Regions from separate parts of the Homo sapiens genome. Here region 2 is linked to region 1. Evidence: fine-mapped expression QTL. Tissue or cell type: whole blood. Region 1 holds a variant in brackets; the other region holds the start of a gene. All regions are shown on one strand. Distances are between the middles of the regions.

Region 1 (10,710 bases):
TTGATGTCCCCCTCCCACTGTGAGCACCACTAGGAGCTGCCATAGGCTCTAAGGGTCAGAGGCCAGTGGATGCTGGGCACACTCCCCAAGCCCCATTCTTCTTCTGTGGTTAGAGGCCCTTCCTATACCTGTCAAAACCTCAGAAAGATAGGGTTCTTTTGGGTTTGCCACTTAATATGTAAGTATGTATTTGTTTGTTTTCCCACTAGGCTGTAAGCTCCTTAAACTCAAGAACCAAATCTGGGCCGGGCATGGTGGCTCATGCCTGTAATCCCAGCACTTTGGGAGGCTGAGGCAGGCGGATCACAAGGTCAAGAGACCGAGACCATCCTGGCCAACATGGTGAAACCCTGTCTCTACTAAAAATACAAAAATTAGCTGGGTGTGGTGGCGCGTGCCTGTAGTCCCAGCTACTCAGGCGGCTGCGGCAGGAGAATCGCTTGAACCTGGGAGGCGGAGGTTGCAGTGAGCCAAGATCACATCACTGCACTCTAGCCTGGTGACAAAGTGAGACTCCGTCTCAAACAAACAAACACCAAATCTGGTTCATTTTAAAGTCATCAGACAAGTAAAACATCACTAAAGTTAGAAAAAGAGCTATTAACACAACATACTGGCCATGTTCTTTCTGAATGCTTGATATAAATGGCTTGCTTCTCATTTGAAATACCAGCTCACCTTCTCTGAGGGGTCAGATGCAGCAGCTTCAACCCCAGACATCTGGGACTTGTTCTTCTCTAGTTCCTTGATGTGCTGTTCATTTTGCTTGGTGAGAGCTGTGATTTGGGCCTGGAGGGCTAAACACTGCAAAACAAACAGACTGTGGCTGTGGCCTCAGGAACCAGGTGAAGGTCAGAAAACCCAAGGGGAGGAGAACCACCCAAACATCAAGTCTCTTTTTTTTTTTTTTGCATATAATAAAAAGACAATTTTATTTCAAATTCTTTTTTTTTATTATTATTATACTTTAAGTTCTAGGGCACATGTGCACAATGTGCAGGTTTGATGCATAGGTATACATGTGCCATGTTGGTGTGCTGCACCCATCAACTCATCATTTACATTAGGTATTTCTCCTAATGCTATCCCTCCCCCCGTCCCCCAACCCCCGACAGGCCCCGGTGTGTGATGTTCCCCGCCCTGTGTCCAAGTGTTCTCACTGATCAATTCCCACCTATGAGTGAGAACATGCAGTGTTTGGTTTTCTGTCCTTGTGATAGTTTGCTGGGAGTGATGGTTTCCAGCTTCAACCATGTCCCTGCAAAGGACATGAACTCATCCTTTTTTATGGCTGCATAGTATTCCATGGTGTATATGTGCCACATTTTCTTAATCCAGTCTATCACTGATGGACATTTGGGTTGGTTCCAAGTCTTTGCTATTGTGAATAGTGCCACAATAAACATACATGTGCATGTGTCTTTATAGTAGCATGATTTATAATCCTTTAGGTATATAACCAGTAATGGGATTGCTGGGTCAAATGGTAATTCTAGTTCTAGATCCTTAAGGAATCGCCACACTGTCTTCCACAATGGTTGAACTAATTTACACTCCCACCAACAGTGTAAAAGCGTTCCTATTTCTCCACATCCTCTCCAGAATCTCTAAACATCAAGTCTTAACCTCGCCTAGGTCTGCTGGTGTCCACTCCCTCAGCCCCCACCCACGACCCTCTGCCTCAGAGAGTTCTATCTCCTCATCATTCGACTTCAACGCAAAACTTCACTTTCTCTTTCCCAAGAAGGTTGCTTGCCTTGTTCCCAATCAGGTAAAAAATATAATGAAAAAAGAGCAGGAGGGTAGGTAATAACTAGTCATTTAGACATAAACATTCAGCATTAACAGCAACCCATTTGTCATTCATCTGCAAGATTGCCTCCAAGATCTCTGAGCCAAAAGTTTTCAACTGGACACTTTAAGGAAAGAAACTGACCTCGAATATGGACTTTCACACCATGACCCTAAGCCATGTCCCATCTCTCTTTTTCAGGCCTGATGATCCCACCACACCCCAGCCTCCATCCTATCTCAGTGCCTTTGCCCAGGATGTTCTGCCTCCTTTGCTGCCTTACCAAAGCTATTTGTCCTTCTTGGCTCTGCTCAAATGTCACCACCTTTGGGAAACCTTCCCAGCTCTCCTGGGTACTTCCTCTTCTGGGCCCCATAGCACTTAACACCTATCTTTGTTTCTTTGTCTCCCTTTCTTGACTGTGAGATACATGAGGGAAGGGTTCCTTGTATGCACTTCCTTTAACACACTGGATGGAATACAACTGACTCTCAATAAATATTTGCTTAATAAATGAAGGATCCAATAATAATGGGAAACATGTTCCGGAACACTAGTGCTGTTTTCTCTTTTTCCAGGTCACTGACCTATCACCCCACATAAGTATGTGAAAGATAACTGACAAGCTAAACAAGTGTGGTTTTGTCTTCTAGATATTAATAACTTTCAGGCTTAGAAGGATCGACAGGACTCAAACAGCCTGCTTGCCTCAAATTAACTGGGCTGCCTAAACTGTCTGACTCAAGAAAAATATGTACCTTTTCCTGAAGTTGTACCAGCTTCTGCTGGTAGGCATCTCTCTGTGCGCACACCTCCTGGTACTGCTGCAGGTGCTCATCCTTGGCGGAGGCCAACAAATGTTCACATTTTGCTTCCCACTGGGTCTGTAGCTCAGCCTGTACTAAAGACAGCTGCCAAGAGAAAGTAATGACCATATCATCCTTGGGGGTGGGGGAGTGAGATTCCATTGCACCTAGGGAAACCCATCTTTCAAAAAGCAAAAGAATAAGCTAACAGCCCAGATTTAACTGGGAAACTGTTTAAAAGACTCATTACTTTTAAAATAAATGCACTTCTTAAGATGTCATTGGTTGTCAGGACTCCAAAAGGTACTCCAAGCAGACAAAAGTGTGCCTATCTAGATAGGTCCCTGGAGGGCAGGGCCATGTGATCACTGCTTTTCAGGGTCTGAACCCTAAACTTTATAGGTTCAGAAACTTTTTTTCACCAAAATTCCCAGAGGTGGTCAAATTGAGGGCACCAATGCACTCTAATTAAACAAATGTATGCATATAAATTTTAAGCTTATAATGAGAAAGGTTGCTGTTGCACAGACTAGAGATCCAGCTGTGTCCTGCCACTATCCCTGGTTCCCTTCCTGATGACCTAAATCAATCCCTTCTTTTCAAGGATGATAATGTGCCTGAAGGATGGTGTCCAATGGTTGATGGTTTTGGCCTTACCATGTTTGGAATTTTTTTTGTAAGGAAACTATTTTTCATTTTTACTTATGTAATTAAATATTAACTAAGCTTTAAAAAAAGAAAGAAGATTCTCCATTTGATTCCTGGCTCTCCTGCACATATCTGGATTACTTTTTCTACCTTTCTCCAAAGTGAGAGTATCAGCTATGAGAAATGTCATCCTAAAGGGTAAGGAAGAAACCAGAAGCTTTTCTCTCTGAGTCCTTCACACCTTCCCTCTATTTTCAAAGTGCTTCAGTTTCCCATTACCTGCTCTGCAGCTGCTTGGTCTGTGGACACTCGAGTCTTTTTCAAGAGCTGTCGAAGTTTGTCCAATTCCTCCTGGTATGACTTGCGAATTTCATCTATCTCCTCCTCGGCCTGAGAACGCTCTTGAGCTGACTTCTTTTTCCTTTCTGAGAGGTTCTTAGGAACAAGAGAACCATCATCAGCTCTAGCTTGTTAACAGAGAATAAAGAGGGATGATGGCGGTGGCAGTTAATTACCTTGTGGAATCCTTACTCCATTTCTGAAAACTCCATTTTTTAGTTGAATTTTCCCCTAAATATTTAACATTCTTGGCTACTGGGTGAGGAAAATGGTGACAGGAGAAGGAAAACAAGAAGAGCTGTATCTACCCCTCTATTAAGAGCTAGGGAAATTGGGAGGCCGAGGCGGGCGGATCACGAGGTCAGGAGATCGAGACCATCCCGGCTAAAACGGTGAAACCCCGTCTCTACTAAAAAATACAAAAAATTAGCCGGGCGTAGTGGCGGGCGCCTGTAGTCCCAGCTACTTGGGAGGCTGAGGCAGGAGAATGGCATGAACCCGGGAGGCGGAGCTTGCAGTGAGCCGAGATCCCGCCACTGCACTCCATCCTGGGCGACAGAGCGAGACTCCGCCTCAGAAAAAAAAAAAAAAAAAAAAAAAAAAAAAAAAAAAAAGAGCTAGGGAACATCCTAACTTTAATAAAGGTACAGGAAATCAGACATTCTCATACCCTGATAGTAAGAAAACGAATGGATATACTCTCTTTGGATAGTAATCCTGTGAAAAGCCTTTAAAAACATACGTATCCAGAAATTCCACAAATTGTAATTAAGGATTCAATAAGTCATAGTCATAAAGAGTGTGTTACAAGGATGGTCACTGTAGTAGTATCTATAGTAATGACAAACTGAAAACAGCCAAGAGGTTAGAAGGAATTGGTTAAAAATAAATAAATAAAATGGAAAAAATCCTGGAAAAAAATGCAATTGCAGACCAAGATTTACCCTCTTAAAAGGCACTGGGCCAAAACAGCTTTACCTAATGAGATTTACTGAAGCCTCAGGAGCAGTTTATTATTTTCATATTTAAACGATTCCAGAACAGACAAAAAGATAGAAATGTTCTCACTTTGTTCACTTAGTATTTCCTGATATTAAAATTTTAACCAACAAAAGATACTATAAATAAAGTTAAAAGACAGCAAGCTAGAAAAATATTTACAACATCTATGACTGACAAAGGATTGATACCCTTAAAAGGGTTTACAAATCAAACTAATAATAGGAAAAAGGATAAAGGACACTAAAGAGAGAATGTACATAAGAAATACAAATAGGTATTAAATATATGAAAGCTTTACTACTAATAAAAATACACATTAAAACAAGATAACATATTTCACCTGTCAGACTAATGAAGATTAGAAAAAGTGATATATGTAGAGTGGGGAAGAATGTGACAAATGGGCTCACTCACATACTGCTGAAAGTGTAAGCACTATTCTTTGAGGATAACCTGGTAATATTTATAAAAATTCAAATATGTAGCCTTCCCTTTGATCCCATGATTCTTACTCATGCAATCCATCACGTAGGAATGCTCAAACAAATTTGCAAAAACAGTTATATAATATGAGAATGTCCATAGAAGCAGTGCTTAAAATAATGAAAAAATAAAAACATAAATATCCATCGATAGGCAAATCATTAAACAAATTATGGTACAGCCTCATAGTAGGCTACTATGCAGCAGTTAACTACGAGTGAGAAAGATCTCCTTCTTATGTAGTACAAGTCCATGACATTTTCCTAAAAAACATTAAACGTGATACCACTACTGTAAAAAAAGTTGTCAGTATACATACATGTATGTGTGTGAGAGTGTGAATGTATGTTTTCTACATACAGAAAACAATCTGGAAGGATCATACACTTTATAACTGTCACCTTCAATGTATGAGATTAGAGCGGGGAAAATTTTTTTTTAATTTTACACTTTTCTATATTATTTGTATTTGTTACAATAAGCACATACTATTGTAA[T/C]TTGTAAAAGGAAAATAAAAATGTTTATTAAACAGCTAATTCTGGCCAACTGGGTTGTAGAGCTTACCTTTTCCAAGGACTCCTTCTCAACTCGAAGGTCAGTCAGTTCCTCCTCCAGGGATGTCACCTTGAGTTCCAGTTGTTTCCGGTTCTGCTTTTCACTTTTGAATTTGGACTGTGCTTGCTCAGAGGTTTCTTGGAGCTCTGGGATACAGGAGCAGAGAGACTTCGCTACAGAACCAAAGCTGTAATGGGCTATGTGTTATCCCAGCAGCTCTTTTTTTAAATTATTTTTTGGAGACAAAGCCTTGCTCCATCACTCAGGCTGGAGTGCAGTGGTGTGATCATAGCTCACTATAGCCTCCATCTCCTGGGCTCAAGCAGTCCTCCTGCCTCAGCCTCCCAGAGTGCTAGGATTACAGGCGTGAGCCCCTGCGCCTGGCCCCAGTGGCTCTTTCAAAGCCGCGTGCTTTGATTTCCCAATCCTACCACACAAGCAGCCTCTGCTCACTTCTTTCAACATCACCTCACTGACCAGCAATAAGATTTGTCAAGCCGTCAGCTGACTCCCTCATCAACCCATATTTATCCCATAGAAAGTCATCTCTGTGTATACATGTCACCTTCTCCACATACGAAATGGAAAGGACATGTTCCCAGCAGTCAGAAATGACCTTTGAAACAGATAACTCTCATAAGTCCATTTTGGCCACCATCTTAACACACTGGACCAATCATTGTTTAGTATTAGTCCAGGTTCTTTCTCACTGCTTGAGTAAGATAGTCTCAACTTTCTTGGTAGCTGGGACATTCTACCAAGAATTTGCTTTCAAAGCATCCCTTCTCAAATAAAGCTCTTTGAAATAAATAAAATTTGTTTGGGAAACTTTTGAGACTCTTATGACTCTTGAGGTAATTGTCATAAGGCACCACAAAAGCAGAAATGAGACATTTGAACAACATTCAAATCTAAGACTGTCTAACACATTTGCCTCATGTGGGCCCAGTCATGCTCTAAAAGGGAAGAGATGGGCTGGGAGCAATGGCCAATGCCTGTTAATCCCAACGCTTTGGGAGAACAGGGCGGAAGGATGGCTTGAGGTCAAGAGTTCACAACCAGCCTGGTCAACATAGTAAGACTCCTGTCTCTACAAAATATAAAAAATTTTTAAAAAAATAAAAGGGAAGGGATGTATCTTCAAGGTAGCACCTTACCAATTGACATCATTGTTTTTTAGTTCTCTATTAGGCAAATGAACTTTGCTTCCACCCAACTCTGCTGCTGCTCCAGCTACCCCCTGCCCACTAGTCCCATGTCTGCCTTCCATATTTGTTTCCATAAACCAAGGTAGATTAATCAACCTGCTGGTCTTCACAAATCTTCTATCCAATCACCATGTCTTGCCAGGCACTGAACTAACACTAATATGGAGGAGAGGACTTTACAAAGATGAGCAAAACACCATGCTTATCAAACTGTGATAAGGGTTATAATAATGCACTATGAGATAAAGGATTTTTTTTTAAAGAGATCAAATGTTCTAGAGAAAACTAGGAAAGCTTCTGAAAGAGGCAGATTTTGAAGAGGACTAAAAGCGAATATTGGTAATGGTGGGCATGTCAAGTCCAGAGAATAGCATGGATAAGAAGCAAGACAAGAACTACAGGATGAGCTGAAGAGCAGCCAGCAGGCTTGCTGGCATGGTCAGGGCCAGGATGAACTGGACAATATAACGGGAGACAAGCCAAGCAGGATGGGCCTTGAGTGTGAGGCTGAAGAGTTGCAATCCATCTTCTAGGAAAGAAGAAACCACACCAGGAAGCATTTCTTTTTTAAACTTCCACTGAGTCATGAGTTAGAACAACACATCAACTATTCCAGGCATTTGAAGCCAATCATAAGTACCAAAGATTTTGAAGCCAACACCTCCCCAAACAAAAGGGAACTGTGGCACTGATCAATTCCACATGAATAGTCAGTTCTTTTGCTGTTCCTTCTGTAAAACAATCATGTAGGTTTTATACTAGTCTCCTTTAATTTTTGGTGTAGTCCTTCAAAAACTTCATGAGCATCATGCCAAAAAAATTGAGAGGAAGAAAACAGCTTAATTCCTTGAGTTTAAATGGCAACAATCCCAGCATCCCCCACCTAGCACATACCTGAGAGCTTTGCCTGCACTTTGGTGAGCTGGCCCCTGAGAAGATCTGTCTCCTTCAGGCTTTCTGTCAGCTGCATCTGCAGCTCTGTTTCCTTTTTTTGGTGAGCAGTCATTTTCAGCTGCAGATGAGAGACCTGTGCAGTGGCCGCTGCTAACTCCTCTGTCACCTTGGCCTGAATAATAACAAAGTATGATGTCACTTTAAACATAGGTGTTCTCCATGCAGGTGATGAACCAACCTCACATAACTCTATGTAGACTGAACTAGTAAACAGGGAGTTATGGCTGCCTTCAACCTGCATTAAACCAAATTCAAATTATGGGGTGGACCATCTCTCCTATACAATTATATTACTACTACTATTATGACTCCTATACTATTATACCTATACCAGTATACTTAAAATTTTTTTTTTTTTAGAGATGGGGTCTCGCTCAGTCACCCAGGCTAGAGTGCAATGACACGACATAGCTCACTGTAGCCTCGGACTCCTGGGCTCAAGCAATCCTCCCACCTCAGCCTCTGGAGTAGCTGGGACCACAGGTGCAAGCTACTATGCCTGTCTCTATTATACCTTACATACATTTTCACAGTTGTCTATTTCCTTATTATCATTTGTCTCTTCTTACTGTGTTCACTGTACCCACTTGTTTTAAATATATTTATTCCTCGCCTTATTCCAAAGTCTTTATCGGTTTTATAGATTGCATTTAAAATCTGATATTTTGACTCTCCTAAAAAAAGAAAATAAAGGCCGGGCGCAGTGGCTCGCGCCTGTAATCCCACCACTTTGGGAGGCCGAAGCGGGCAGATCACGAGGTCAGGAGTTCGAGACCAGCCTGACCAACATGGTGAAACTCGGTCTCTACTAAAAATACAAAAATTAGCCAGGCATGGTGGTGGGCGCCTGTCATCCCAGCTACTCGGAGGCTGAGGCAGGAGAATCACTTGAACCTGGGAGGCAGAGGTTGCAGTGAGCTGAGATCGTGCCACTGCACTCCTGCCTGGGCAACAGAGCAAGACTCCATCTCAAAAGAAAAAAAAAAAAAACAAGAAAACAAAATTGTATATAAAATAAAAATAACATGCCACTGCTCTGCCTGTGGGGTAATCATTCTTTTATTCCTTCACTTAATAAACTTGCTTTCACTTTAAAAAATAAATAAATAAAAATAAATAGGCTATAAATGAGTATCTGAGAGTATATGTAACCTTTAGACTAAGCTTTAAGATACTTATTTTTGCTATTCAGTAGCCTTAGGTTTTCACCTGCTAAACACAGATGACAATGAAATCTAGAAGTTCCAGATATAGGAGTGGCTTTCATCTACTCATTGTCCTGCTTCAAATGGCCTAATGAAAACAAAACTAACTCAGAGCTCAGAGAGCTTTGCATCTATTCATAGCTCAGAGTTCACTAATAACAGAACATGCACCTCTCTCATAAGGACTTGCAGCAGCTAAAACACTGGAAGGGACAAATTCCAAAGGCGTGCCAATGAAATGCAGGGTTACTCTCTTGCTAAAGGTTAAGCAGAGTAGAAAATCACCCAAAAGCTCTTTTTATCTCAGGTCCTTAGCTAGAAAGGCCTCTCAGAAGCATAAAAATTAATGCTGTCCCCCAAATGTACATGTACACAGAAAATAAGGGAATGGATAAGATATTAATAATCATTATTTTTGAGTGGAAGGATTTATATTTTATGTTTGCTTATCTGTATTTCTAAATTTTCCAGACTGAACAGATGCAACTTTTATGATCAGAAAAAAATGTGTGTGTGTGTGTGTGTGTGTGTGTGTGTGTATAGGTGTACTTATAATTTTTTTTTAAGGTCAGGGTATAATCAAGTGAGAAGGGAAAACACAAAAAAATCTACACCCTGGTTCCTACCCTGGATCAAATTCTACTGCTGACATGGAGAGTGAGAAAAAGAAAGCAATGACAGGAAGAACTAACAGTTCAGAAAAACAGTGAAAAAAAGCATGCAAGGTAGAAGCAGGAAAATAGTACTCAAGAGAGATAATAATTTGACACAGGAAAAGGAATATAGCTGAATGGAAATGGGGTCCTATGCAGGTCTTTTACCCTTTCATTCTCTGATCCTTGGTCTGTCCCTGTAAAATAAAAAGGTTAAACTAAGAAGGCAACCTCTAATAGCTCTTCCAGTTTTAGCCATTATTCCACGATTTTTTGTGGTACTATTATATCACAGTGAAAAATAATTTCATTTACCAAATATTCATTGAGCCCTTAACCATACTTTTCTGAGCTGTGTCTGAAGGCAGAAAATTGCCTCCAGGGACAAAAGGACCTTGCCCATCTCCCTTTAAAAGGAGAGATCACCAGGAAAACTGTTAAGTGAGAAGTGGATCAAAAGAAAAAGAGGGGAGAGTCAAGGCTCAAAAAGTTTCATTGAAATAAAGATGATCAAGTAAAACATGTGGTACTTGGCATCCCAGTCATATGCATCAAGAGATTCCCTAAAAAATTTGTGTGAAACATGGTATCTATAACACAGTGGGTTGTGGCAGATATTAGCTGTGATTACTATTGTCATTATTACTTCTACTGTTTTGCTATTATAAATAGAGCATCTACTGGGTTCAGTGCATGGTATCAGACATCTCTGGGGTTTATCAACATGAAAACATTTGGGTAGATTATTGAGCTAATTCAGGGGCTGGCAAACTATGACCTATGAGCCAAACTGACCTATTATTTTTGTAAATAAAGTTTTATTGGAACACATACACACACAAAACAGTGCTTCTCAACATGAGAATCACATGCTGAACTTCTTAAAAATGTTGCCCCTCCAGAGATTATGACAAAAGAAATCACTGACAAGAGCAGTAATTCCTACACCTGGAATCTATAGGATCTTTTTAAAAGTTCAGATTCAGGCCCCAGCTAGATAAACTAAATTAGAATCTCTGGAGGTTCGGGATTTAAGAATATCTAGTTTTAATCAAGCACCCCAAG
Region 2 (10,710 bases), 25 kb before region 1:
AACAGACATGATACAAATGGATTCCTCCCAGGACACTGATTAGCTACTGGAGTCCCATCCTCCCCATCCAGAGAGAACAGAAGGGACAGGGCTGTGTCTCAAAGGTATTGTCCTGGTGGGTACACATAATACTAACCACCAGCCTCAGACTGTGACCAGAGCTAAGATTCATTCAAGTGCCTCCCTGACCCCTCCCCACCACCAGAAAAACACCTTTTGTTATCGGAGCAGAACCAGCTTCTCCCTAGCTGTCTCCCCCACGGCAATGTGTCAGAGACAGGTGGTTTACATCTGCTAGGCATTCTTCCTTCTCAGACTCAGGCACAGTGGGTGGGGAGTCTACCTACAGTGGCCTCAGCTATTGGTTGAACTATATATGAAATTGCCTTTTTTTTTTCAGGTTAAAAATGGTCAAATGTCAGCCATTTCATCTGGTCAAATGAATACTTTACCTTACTCCAAAAGATAAGTCAGAAGATTTTTCCAGTTGGGTCCTTCCTCCAGCACCAAATGATCATTTGGTTTGTGATACATTGGGAGTCAAAATATACATAGTAGATCAACATGGGGATATCAACAAGATGCTCCTGTTTGAACGGTTTTAGGGTTCCTGGGGGTGAAAATCCGTTTATTTCTTCAAGATGAGGAAAACCTGCTGTAGAGGAAATTTACTGTACACAAGCTGAAACCCGCTTTGCCAAATCTCTGTAAGATTAGGAAATGGCGTACAGTCGGGATCAGGTAGAGATTTTTGGGGATACGTTCAGAACTCTGAATGCAGCAGGAAGCCTACACAGGGACAGAGAGAGGGGGTCCATTCCTATCTTCTTTTCATGAGACTGAAAAGAAGTACAGGGCCAAGCTTCTAGATAAGCACTCACTTTTTTAAAACATTGTATTTATAGATCCACATTCACTGCAGCATTATTTACAATAGCCAAAAGGTGAAAGCAACCCAAGTGTCCATCAGTGGATGAATGAATTAGCAAAATATCATATATACTTACAAAGAAATGTTATTCAGCCTTAAAAAGGAAGAAAAGTCTGATACCTGCCACACTATGGACAAACTTTAAGGACATTATGTTAAGTGAAATAAGTCAGTCACAGAAGGACAAATACTATGTGATTCCACTTAAGAGGTATCGAGAGACATTCAAATCATAGAGATACAAAGTAGAATGGTGGTTGTCGGGGGCAGGGGGAGAAGGGAATAGGGAGTTGTTAAATGTTCATAGAATTTCAGTTTTACAAGATGAAAAGCATCTTGGATATGGGTTACATGATGTATAATTAATGAATATAATTAACAATACTGAACTGTACACTTAAAATAGTTGAGAGCAAATTTTATGTTGTGTGTGTGTTTGTTGTTGTTGTTTTGTTTTGTTTTGAGATGGAGTCTCACTCTGTTGCTCAGGCTGGAATGCAGTGATGTGATCTCTGCTCACTGCAGCCTCTGCCTCCCAGGTTCAAGCAATTCTTCTGCCTCAACTTCCCAAGTAGCTGGGATTACAGGCACCCATTACTACGCCCAGCTAATTTCTGTATTTTTAGTAGAGATGGGGTTTCACTATATTGGTCAGGCTGGTCTCAAACTCCTGACCTCAAGCGATCTGCCTGCCTCAGCCTCCCAAAGTGCTGGGATTACAGGCGTGAGCCAACATGTCTGGCCTATGTTATGTGTATTTTGCCGCAAGTTTGCTTAAAAAGTATTTGTAAATTTGCTGTCGTCAGCTGGATGGGACATGGATGGCTGTTTTTCAAACCTGTTTACCCTGCAAATGTGGGGCAGTCTGAGCATTGGCCTTCCAAGCTCAGTGCAGCATTGTTGGAGAAACCAGGGCCCCTCAGTCTTCCTGCAGGAGGCAGGCATGCAGGGCCTGGGAGTCCCGGGCAGCTGGAGTAGACAACCTTGCAGCAGCTGTGAAAGGAACCTGTCAAGACAACTGAGGTAAAGAGCCTATACCTGTGAATTCTCAGGGGTGTTTCCCTCCTCAGCCCTGGCTTCAACAGTGAAGGGATCCTCACAGCACTTACCTTCCCTGCAAAGCTAAAACAAACCATTGCTTTCTTCTCAGCTGTCCAGAGGCCTGCTGTTTGCTCTGGTTTGGCTCAAAGCCCTTCCAGACAGTCAGGAAAGTTATAAATGTGGATGACCCCTACAATTGGCTGGATAATGGCCCTAAAAATTATCCAGGTCCTGATGGTCGGAACCTGTGAATGTTATCTGGCAAAAGAGACTTTGCGCACGTGATTAAATTAAGGATCTTGAAATGGGGACATAACCCTGGATTATCTGATGGGTCCTAGATGTAATCATAAGGATCTTTAAAAGAGGGAGGCAGCCAGGCGTGGTGGCTCATATCTGTAATCCCAGCACTTTGGGAGGCCGAGGCGGGCAGATCACGAGGTCAGGAGATCGAGACCATCCTGGCTAACACGGTGAAACCCCATGCTACTAAAAAACAAAACAAAACAAAACAAAATACAAAAAACTAGCCAGGCGTGGTGGCAGGTGCCTGTAGTCCCAGCTACTCGGGAGGCTGAGGCAGAACGGCATGAACCCGGGAGGCGGAGCTTGCAGTGAGCCGAGATCATGCCACTGCACTCCAGCCTGGGAGACAGAGCGAGACTCTGTCTCAAAAATAAACAAAAAAATTTGTTAAAAATTAGCTGGGCATGCTGTAGTCCCAGCTACTCAGGAGGCTAAGCTAAGGCAGGAGGATCACTTGAGGCCAGGAGTCTAGACTGCAGTGAGCTATCATTGCAATAATGCACTTCAGCCTGAGTGACAGGGCAAGACCCTGTCTCTAAAATAAATAAATAAATTGGGTGGTCAGAGTGGCCTCACTAAGAGAGTGACATTTGGGAAAAAAGAAAAAGAACAAAATGCAGTGAGAAAACATACATATTAAAAACCCATTGGTAGTTCCTTCTTGTCCCAGAGTAAATTCCTGACTTTCAACACAGCCTCCGGGTTGTTGGCGGCCTGGCTCCTGCTTCCTCCAGCCTTACCAGCACAAGATCCAGTAAACACTAGCCCCCACGACACGCACACCCACTGTCTCCACACAGGCCAACCTTGAATGTGCACGCTCCTCCTGTGTCACACACATCAGATCCACAATACTGCTCATGGCATAAATATAAAATAATAGAGGTATCGTTGGAGAGAAGATGGAAGGCTAGTTGATGGAGTTAACAGGGAAAATATGCAAAGGTCCTGGCCATAACATGTTCAACTCCACCCTCAGGCTCACTTATAACTGCAGATCAGCACGTGGAGGGCAGTTGCAGGTCATCCATTCCACCCCTCACTGTACGGATGGGGACATCGAGGTCCCAGAGACGGGCAGTGGCATCCTTGGGGATCACACAGCCTTACCTACACATAAAGACCCAACATTCTGCAGGAATTACATGTTGTGCATGTGGTCTTTTCATGAGTCTCAAGTTCCTCTACTGAACCTCAGAAGGAGAAATGACTGGTTGGATTTCCGCTCTATCAACTGACTACAAATGAGCCCAGGTTAAAGGGCCTCTAAATAATCTTTGTGACACTCAAGGCAGTGCCATCTTTCCTGAGTGGGGATTCTGTCTCGGGGGGTCTAGGTGTGCTATGGAAAGACAACAACAGACTATTGCTCCGTGAAAGGAGGGGAGTCATGGGCTGTCAAAACACAGAATCCGGAATCTCTTGCCATGGACCCAGGCTTGGGTGGCTGTGTTGTGATCTTATGATCTAGGATCCCATGGTTTGCAACAAGCTCTCTGCCTGGGGGACAGGGAAGGAGTGCCTCTGGTGGTACAGAAAGAAATTTTAGGACTCCCTGGCTAAGTGTTGTAACCAAAACATCCATGAGGAAGTTAGAAGTAAGTGTAAAGGTCATCAGATTGTGACAAAGCCAACAAAAACCGTCAAATGAATAAAGCTGTGTTGCAGATTCTTCAATGCAGGTGGGGGGAGTGGGGTGCACCAGAGCCCACTTATGTGAAGGTCAGATTATCTTACTCCTGCTTCCCATGTAAGGCCCAGAGAGGTGAAAAGCTACACCCAAAGCCCTCCCCAGCTCTTGGAACCCAGATGCTTCAGAGATACCCTTAGCCCTTCTCCCCAGTGCTTCCCCATGGCCCAGTAAACCATGACAGCAGCAGCTCTCCCTCTCCAGCCCCATCACAGTGCCACGGCCCATGTTCTCTCCCTGAAGCTGCTCCATTAGCTTTCAGACTGAGAATCTTAAAAGCTGTGTGGGCCGGGCAAGATGGCTCACGTCTGTAATCCCAGCATCCCAGCACTTTGGGAGGCCGAGGCGGGCAGATTACGAGGTCAGGATTTCAAGACCAGCCTGACCAATATGGTGAAACCCCGTCTCTACTAACAATACAAAAATTAACCAGGCATGGTGGTGCGCGCCTGTAGTCCCAGCTACTCGGGAGCCTGAGGCAGGAGAATTGCTTGAACACGGGAGATGGAGGTTGCAGTGAGCCAAGATCGCGCCACTGCACTACAGCCTGGGCGACAGAGCGAGACTCTGTTTCAAAGAAAAGAAAAAAAGCTGTGTGACCCTGAGGATTCTACCATTTACTGAACAAGCTCCCACTGCCAGGTTACATGATAATTTAACATGTATGTTTTCATTTAATCCCTATGACATAGATTTTATTATTATTTTCATTTTACTGACCAGAAAACTGAGGTTCAGAGATGTAAGCTATTTGCCTACGGTCCCAAAGCCAATAGTTGATGCGTATGGATGTGAACTGAGGTTAGCTCCAGGCTCAAGGTCTCTGCTAATACTGTCCTTAGTAAGGTTTCTCTGAAGAGCCTCTTTACTCATAGGCTGATTAGCAAAGGGTTCCTAAATATGCTTAAGAATCAATAACCATTAAAAATCCCTCACCCTACAAGAAACTCCCCATCAAAAAACTGGATCAGTGAAATGAACAGGCAATACACAGAAATGGAAGTACCCGTAAGAAAAATAGTTTACTACCCTAGTAATCAAAGAAAAACAAAATTACACGGGTGTATTCCTTTTGGCTTATCAGATTGGAAAATATTTTTCTAAAAAGAAAAATGTAATTATCTTGTAATGACTACACTAAAAATCTAGGGCATAATTGACTTAATTTACTCCAAATGTGTTGCTATTGCGTCCATAGCACGGACTTGCCCATTTCAACTCAATATATGTTACGCTTGGGGTAGTTTATTACAATGAGCAATAAACATTCTCATAATCGCCAAGACAAGCCAAGTGCAAAACAGGAAGGGCGAAGACAGAGGGCAGCAGGTGGTCCCTCTCGCTCGCGACTCCGGGAACGCCAAGCCTCAGCCCTTGGGAACCTGGGGCGAGGCGCCTGGGTCTCGGCCAGGGGGCGCGCCCGAGGACGCCGAAGTAGGGCGCGTGTGGGGACCACAACTCCCAGGCGCCCGCGCGCCGCCTCGCCCGGACCACGTGATCCGTGCGGCCAGGGTAGCTATCGCGGCGGCGGCGGCGGCGGCGGTTGAACTGACTCGGAGCGAGGAGACCCGAGCGAGCAGACGCGGCCCTGGCGCCCGCCCTGCGCACTCACCATGGCGGTAAGGGCCGGGCGCTACGGTGAAGAGGGTGGGCGGTTGGGGCGGGGTCTCCTGGAGCTGCCATCTCGGCACCCCGAATCCTCGCTGCCGCTGGCCCGGGGCTGGTGAAGGGTGTGTTGGCAGCATTGCCAACAGCTGGAACAGGGTTGGGGGACGCGGCAGGTATAGGTTGCGGTGGCTCTGTGGTTTTCCTCTTTATTTGTCCCTCCTGCTGGGAGGCAGTCCGGCTAGGCGAGCAGTTACCGAGCGCCCGCGGTGGCGCGGCTTGAGAGTGGGGGCGCGGTGGCTGAAGACAGCTGGGTCCGGGGCCCCCGGCCCCGGACCTCTGGCCGGCGCCCCAGGGCGGAGAGCAGCGCCTTGGGAGATTCCAGGAAGGCTTCCACGAAAGGGAAACCCCCGGCGCATTTCAGCCCGCAGCCCCGCGCGCACACCGAGCGCACATCCCCGGCCCTGCTCTTGTCAAGTTTGTAGCCTGATTCTTCGGGGAATAAAACAGAACCAGCTACTTTCCAGCTTCCCTACACTTTCAGTCAGAAAACAGCGTTTCAGACAAGCTGTTTTTCTTGGTAGGGTTCACCTGGGCTGGAGAGAACGACAGCTTGCAAGACTCGTTCGTCTTTGAAGAAGTCATATCATTTTCTTCATCCCATGAAGAATGTCATAGAATTTAAGATACAGGAAGCTCAGCCTGGGCAACATAGCTAGACCCCGTCTCTACAAAAATTAGCCACAAGTGGTGGCAGGCGCCTGTAATCCCAGCTACTCGGAGGCTGAGGCAGGATGAGGAGGATTGCTTGAGCCCAGAAGTTCCAGGCTGCAGTGAGCCATGACCTTCGGCCTGGGCAACAGAACAAGACGTCCTCAAACAAACAAAACAAAAAAAAAAAGATATAGGAAGTGTATGTAGGCCATTTAGTGAAATGATCAGCCGTCCTTTAAAAAGGGAAATAGATGGAAAGCACTTGCAAAAGTTCCCCAGCCAGTCAGCCTAGCAACTGGGACCTTCATCTCCTTCCCAACCCTTGTTTACAAATAAGGAAGCTTTTCTCAAAGTGTAAGTAACCCCAAATGAAGAAATATAGAAGAAAACAAGTTCCAGGGATTGCTCCCTCCTTCACCACAGCCCCACCCTGAAAAAAGCACAAATCAGTTAAACTTTCAGAGGCCAAGATTCATCCCAAGTAGGAAAACAAGATTGGGGCCCTGCCCCTTGCCTATCTGACCACAAAGCCCTTTAATTGAAAACTGTAGCCCAGATCGCTTCTCTCAAGTCAGGGTGTGCTGACTTCCATCTTTTCCTCTAGCAAAAAGGCAAAAGTAGAAAGGGTTGAGTGACAGGTGAGTCTTCGTCCCTCTGGGGCTTCGGACTCCGTGGGTGTTTCCAGCTCTGAACAAACCATACAGTTCATCTTCCCAGCTATCTCCTGCTTCTCTGGCTTCAGAACCATCCTAGCCAACTGCTCTCTGGCCAGGGCAGGTGTCTCTCAGGCGGCTTGGTCCCCAGCACCCCCAGGGAGCCTCCACTGTGCCTCCCTTTCTCTGACCTACAACCTGTTGTAATTATTTGCTCACTTAAATGTCCCCCCTCATAGACAGGTAGCTCCCTAAGGGCCAAAGACTTGTCCCATTCATCTCTGTATCGCCAGGGTCTGCACAGACCTAGCACAACAAAAAGAAATCTTTCAAATTACTCTTACTGTTCTGTGGGTGTTCAGGTCTATGGCAAAACATGTCTGGGCTGTTTTGGGCTCCTAAGATAACTGGCCCAGGCCCAAGGATGATAGAAGGAAACCAGTTATGGCAACTCCCTGACTGATTAATTAGCCACTAGGGACATTCCATTCATACCATCTGCTTTACCAAATGGACTCAGAGAAGGGGTGATGGGTGTCACCCCTACCTCTACCTGGCAGAGATGGTGCTAGAGGCTTCTGCTGAGGATGAGGCCATCTCCGGTGTAAATGGAGTTTCACAGTATTGTTTGTACCTGTTTGGTTTTGTATATCAATCTTGCGTAAACATTTTGCTGTGTCAAAATGTTTTTTTTTTTTTTGAAAGCCTAACAGGAGAGATCTCTGAGTAGTAAGACTCAAAATGATTTTTTACTTTCTTTTCGGTACTGTGTCAGCTTTTTACATTGAGCTAGTGCCATTGGGGGTGGGGGGTAAAAGCTATTCTTATTTTTAAACTCTTCAACATTTTTTAAAGTCTTCAACATGATCTTTATCATGTTGTGATGTGACCGCCTAGATTTCCATTTTGAAGCTCTCATATAATTTACTTGACCAGTCCCTACTGGTTGACAGGAGACCATCATGGTTCCTATGATTTCTCAAAGTGTGACCCCCAACAAACACCTGTCCTAGAAACACCTGTCCCAGAAACACCCAGTACACTAAGGTTTGAGAACCAGTACAGGCTTTCCAGAAAACTCTCTGGCTCTGGGTACCTGATTGCCGAGTGACCATGGGGAGATAAGTGGGCTTTTATGTACCTTCCTTGTTAAAGAGGTTAATAATAGTAGGCACCTGCGGAGATGTCACAGGGAGTGACACATAATAAATGGAAGGTGAACGTGGTACAGGCACATGCAGTCCCTCAGAAGACACAGAGCTGTGTGGCTGTTCTGTCCAATCAGATGCTTTCACATTTCTTTCTCTGTCCTGCAGCTCCACGGTCTCCAGTGAGCCCAGTCCCTGGGTAGGCGCAGGCAGGGGTTGGTGACACAAGTCAGACCCCTTTTGGCACTGAAAGGCATGTTAGCTGAGTGTAGGGAGTAGAACAGCCAGGTTAGTCCCAGGTCTCTACCAAACCCCAGGCTGCAGCGTCCAAATCTGAGAGATGCATAGATGTGGTGCCCCATCCAACCCGGAAACAGAGGCACACTCACTGTTATTGTTGTTGTTTTTGAGACAGAGTCTTACTCTATTACTCAGGCTGGAGTGCAGTGGCATGATCTTGGCTCACTGCAACCTCCACCTCCCGGGCTCAAGTGATCCTCCCACCTCAGCACCTCCCAAGTAGCTGGGACTACAGGCACATGCCACCACACCCAACTAATTTTTGTATTTTTTGTAGAGACAGGGTTTTGCCATGTTGCCCAGGCTAGCACTTTTTTCTTTTACAAGGTTTCAGGAAGAGTAGATAGAGTTCAAGATGGGAGCCTGTGAAAGTGAGGCCAAACCAAGGGAAAGGGTTCCTAGAGTCCTGTCCTCATCTTACAGACGAGGAGACTGGGTCCACAGGGGGCTTTCTGCGTGTCAGCAGCTCAAGGCCACGCAGCTGGTTCCTGGCAGAGCTGGGAGGGAGATCCAGGCAGTGCAGCTTTAGAGACCGTGCCCCTAACCACTAGCCTTGCTGCCTCTGTTCAAACTGCAACAAAGTGAACTGAGCCTCAGAATCTCCTGAAGGGGGCTGGTTAAAATCTATGTCTTCCCTGTCTCCTGTGGCTCTGACCCTGGACTCTGATTTAGGGGCCTGAGGAGGCCCAGGAATCTGTACTTTTAATAAGGCCCTGGAGTCTAAGCAGCTGCTGCTGTCCCTCTACACTAAGCCGCTTGCCAGTGTGGAGCTCATGATTGGCCTGTGGTTTCCCAGTGATTCACCCGGGACTGACTCTGCCTCTGTGGATCCGGCTATAACAGCATCGTCATCCACACCTGTGATCCGCTCCAGTGTCCTCCCTCCCACCCTATCCTCTTTGCCTTTTCATCCTGTTGTCCGCTGTTGTCCCTGGGCTCTGGTCTTACTGTCCCATCCCCAGACTGGTCCTTGTTTGTTTCCTTTATTTAAGGTGCACTCTTCATCTTTCTCAGGAAATATGGGCCAGCTATTGGCTGAACATCCTTCGGGGGCTAAGCATGACTATCCTAATTGCACAGAGGCTTTTTCTCATACATTCCTTCCTCTCCCCAATTTCTTCCCATATTTTGTTCCAAAGTGGCCATATCAGTTTCTTCTGCTGTTTGCATATCTTCCTGAAATGTTAAAACAACCGAACGACAGCACAGCCCTCATCTCTGTCTAGTATTGCACAAGAAAGTGGGCTGTTCTCTGTGTTGTAGCATCTGTTTTCCTCTTGCCAAATGAGGGCCTGGTAAGAAGACCCAGGATCCAGTCCTGATGCTGCCACCAACTCACAGTGTGACCCTGGGCATGTCACAGCTGCCCCTTGGACTTCCAGTGCTGCCCTGAGAAGCTGCATTGAGAGCAGTTAGGAGCACAGAATCTGAAACCAGCCCACCCAGGCAAAATTCTAGCTAGCAACTTGGCAAGTTACTTAAACTCTGTCTGCCTTAGTAGTCTCATCTATGAAATGGAGCTAAGAATAATAATTCCCCTCTTGAAATTGAGTGAGTTAAGACATATAACATTTTTAGAAGAGTGCCTGGCACAGAATAATCAGTGTCATTTCCCTCCCAGCATGAAAAAAGAGGGTTGCTCTAAATTAGCACTTCCTAGAGGATAGTCTATGAGATTCTTTCCCACAGGGCACTCAGCAAGAGAAAAAGGGGAGGAGAGAGTTCTGGGTACAGGCTTCTGGCAGTGCAGAAAGCTATTAAACCTTATTTTGTCTAATTCCAGTCTCTCTCAAACTCCCTTGACCATAGAATCCATTTTTCCCAGTACCTCCTAGCATCCTGTACTTCTCCCATGGAACACTTCTGAGAAACACCCCTCCAGCTTTGACATGTATGGGAAAAAAAGGCACTGGGGTTATTGAGCCCTTACTGTGTGTCACTTTGTGTGGATGGCTTTGCAGAGTTTTCCCCCAGCTCCCCTCGGAGGAAACTGAGGCCAGAGAGAGGCCCTGGTTAACAAATGTGTTTTGTTCCAAATCCTGGACTCAGACTACTATTCTTTACTATCTCCTTTGGTCCTAACTGTTGAGAGGGGGAGGATTGGAGACGACTAGAACATGCAAGGCCTGTGGTTTAGGGCTGTCGTCTGCAAGCAGAAGTTTGTGGCTCTGGTTTCCAGGAGGCTACAGGACACCCACATGGCACAGCTTCCTGACAAAATGGCAGCTAATCAAATCTGCCTACCTTTCCACCCCCACACTGACGTTTGCCTCCACCGGAACTCCTTTTCTGTAAGAACTGATGGCCCCCACAGCCTTCACA

Evidence for each region. PIP is the estimated chance that this variant, and not a neighbour inherited with it, causes the effect.
Region 2: SLC31A2 starts here. The variant in region 1 is fine-mapped to the expression of SLC31A2 in whole blood (INTERVAL, PIP above 0.99).

The regions. Positions count from the first base shown.
Region 1 is chr9:113,170,903-113,181,612 of GRCh38, forward strand. FKBP15 (FKBP prolyl isomerase family member 15) reads right to left here. Exons shown (of 28, transcript NM_015258.2): 20 at 7,728-7,899; 21 at 5,635-5,771; 22 at 3,526-3,681; 23 at 2,551-2,703; 24 at 679-804. Among named protein-coding and RNA genes, the nearest start is that of SLC31A2, 25 kb to the left of the region's middle. The variant T/C (reference allele first, on the strand shown) is at 5,568.
Region 2 is chr9:113,145,494-113,156,203 of GRCh38, forward strand. It overlaps SLC31A2 (solute carrier family 31 member 2), which reads left to right and starts at 5,514. Exons shown (of 4, transcript NM_001860.3): 1 at 5,514-5,587. The coding sequence starts at 5,582. RefSeq lists an enhancer at 10,436-10,710.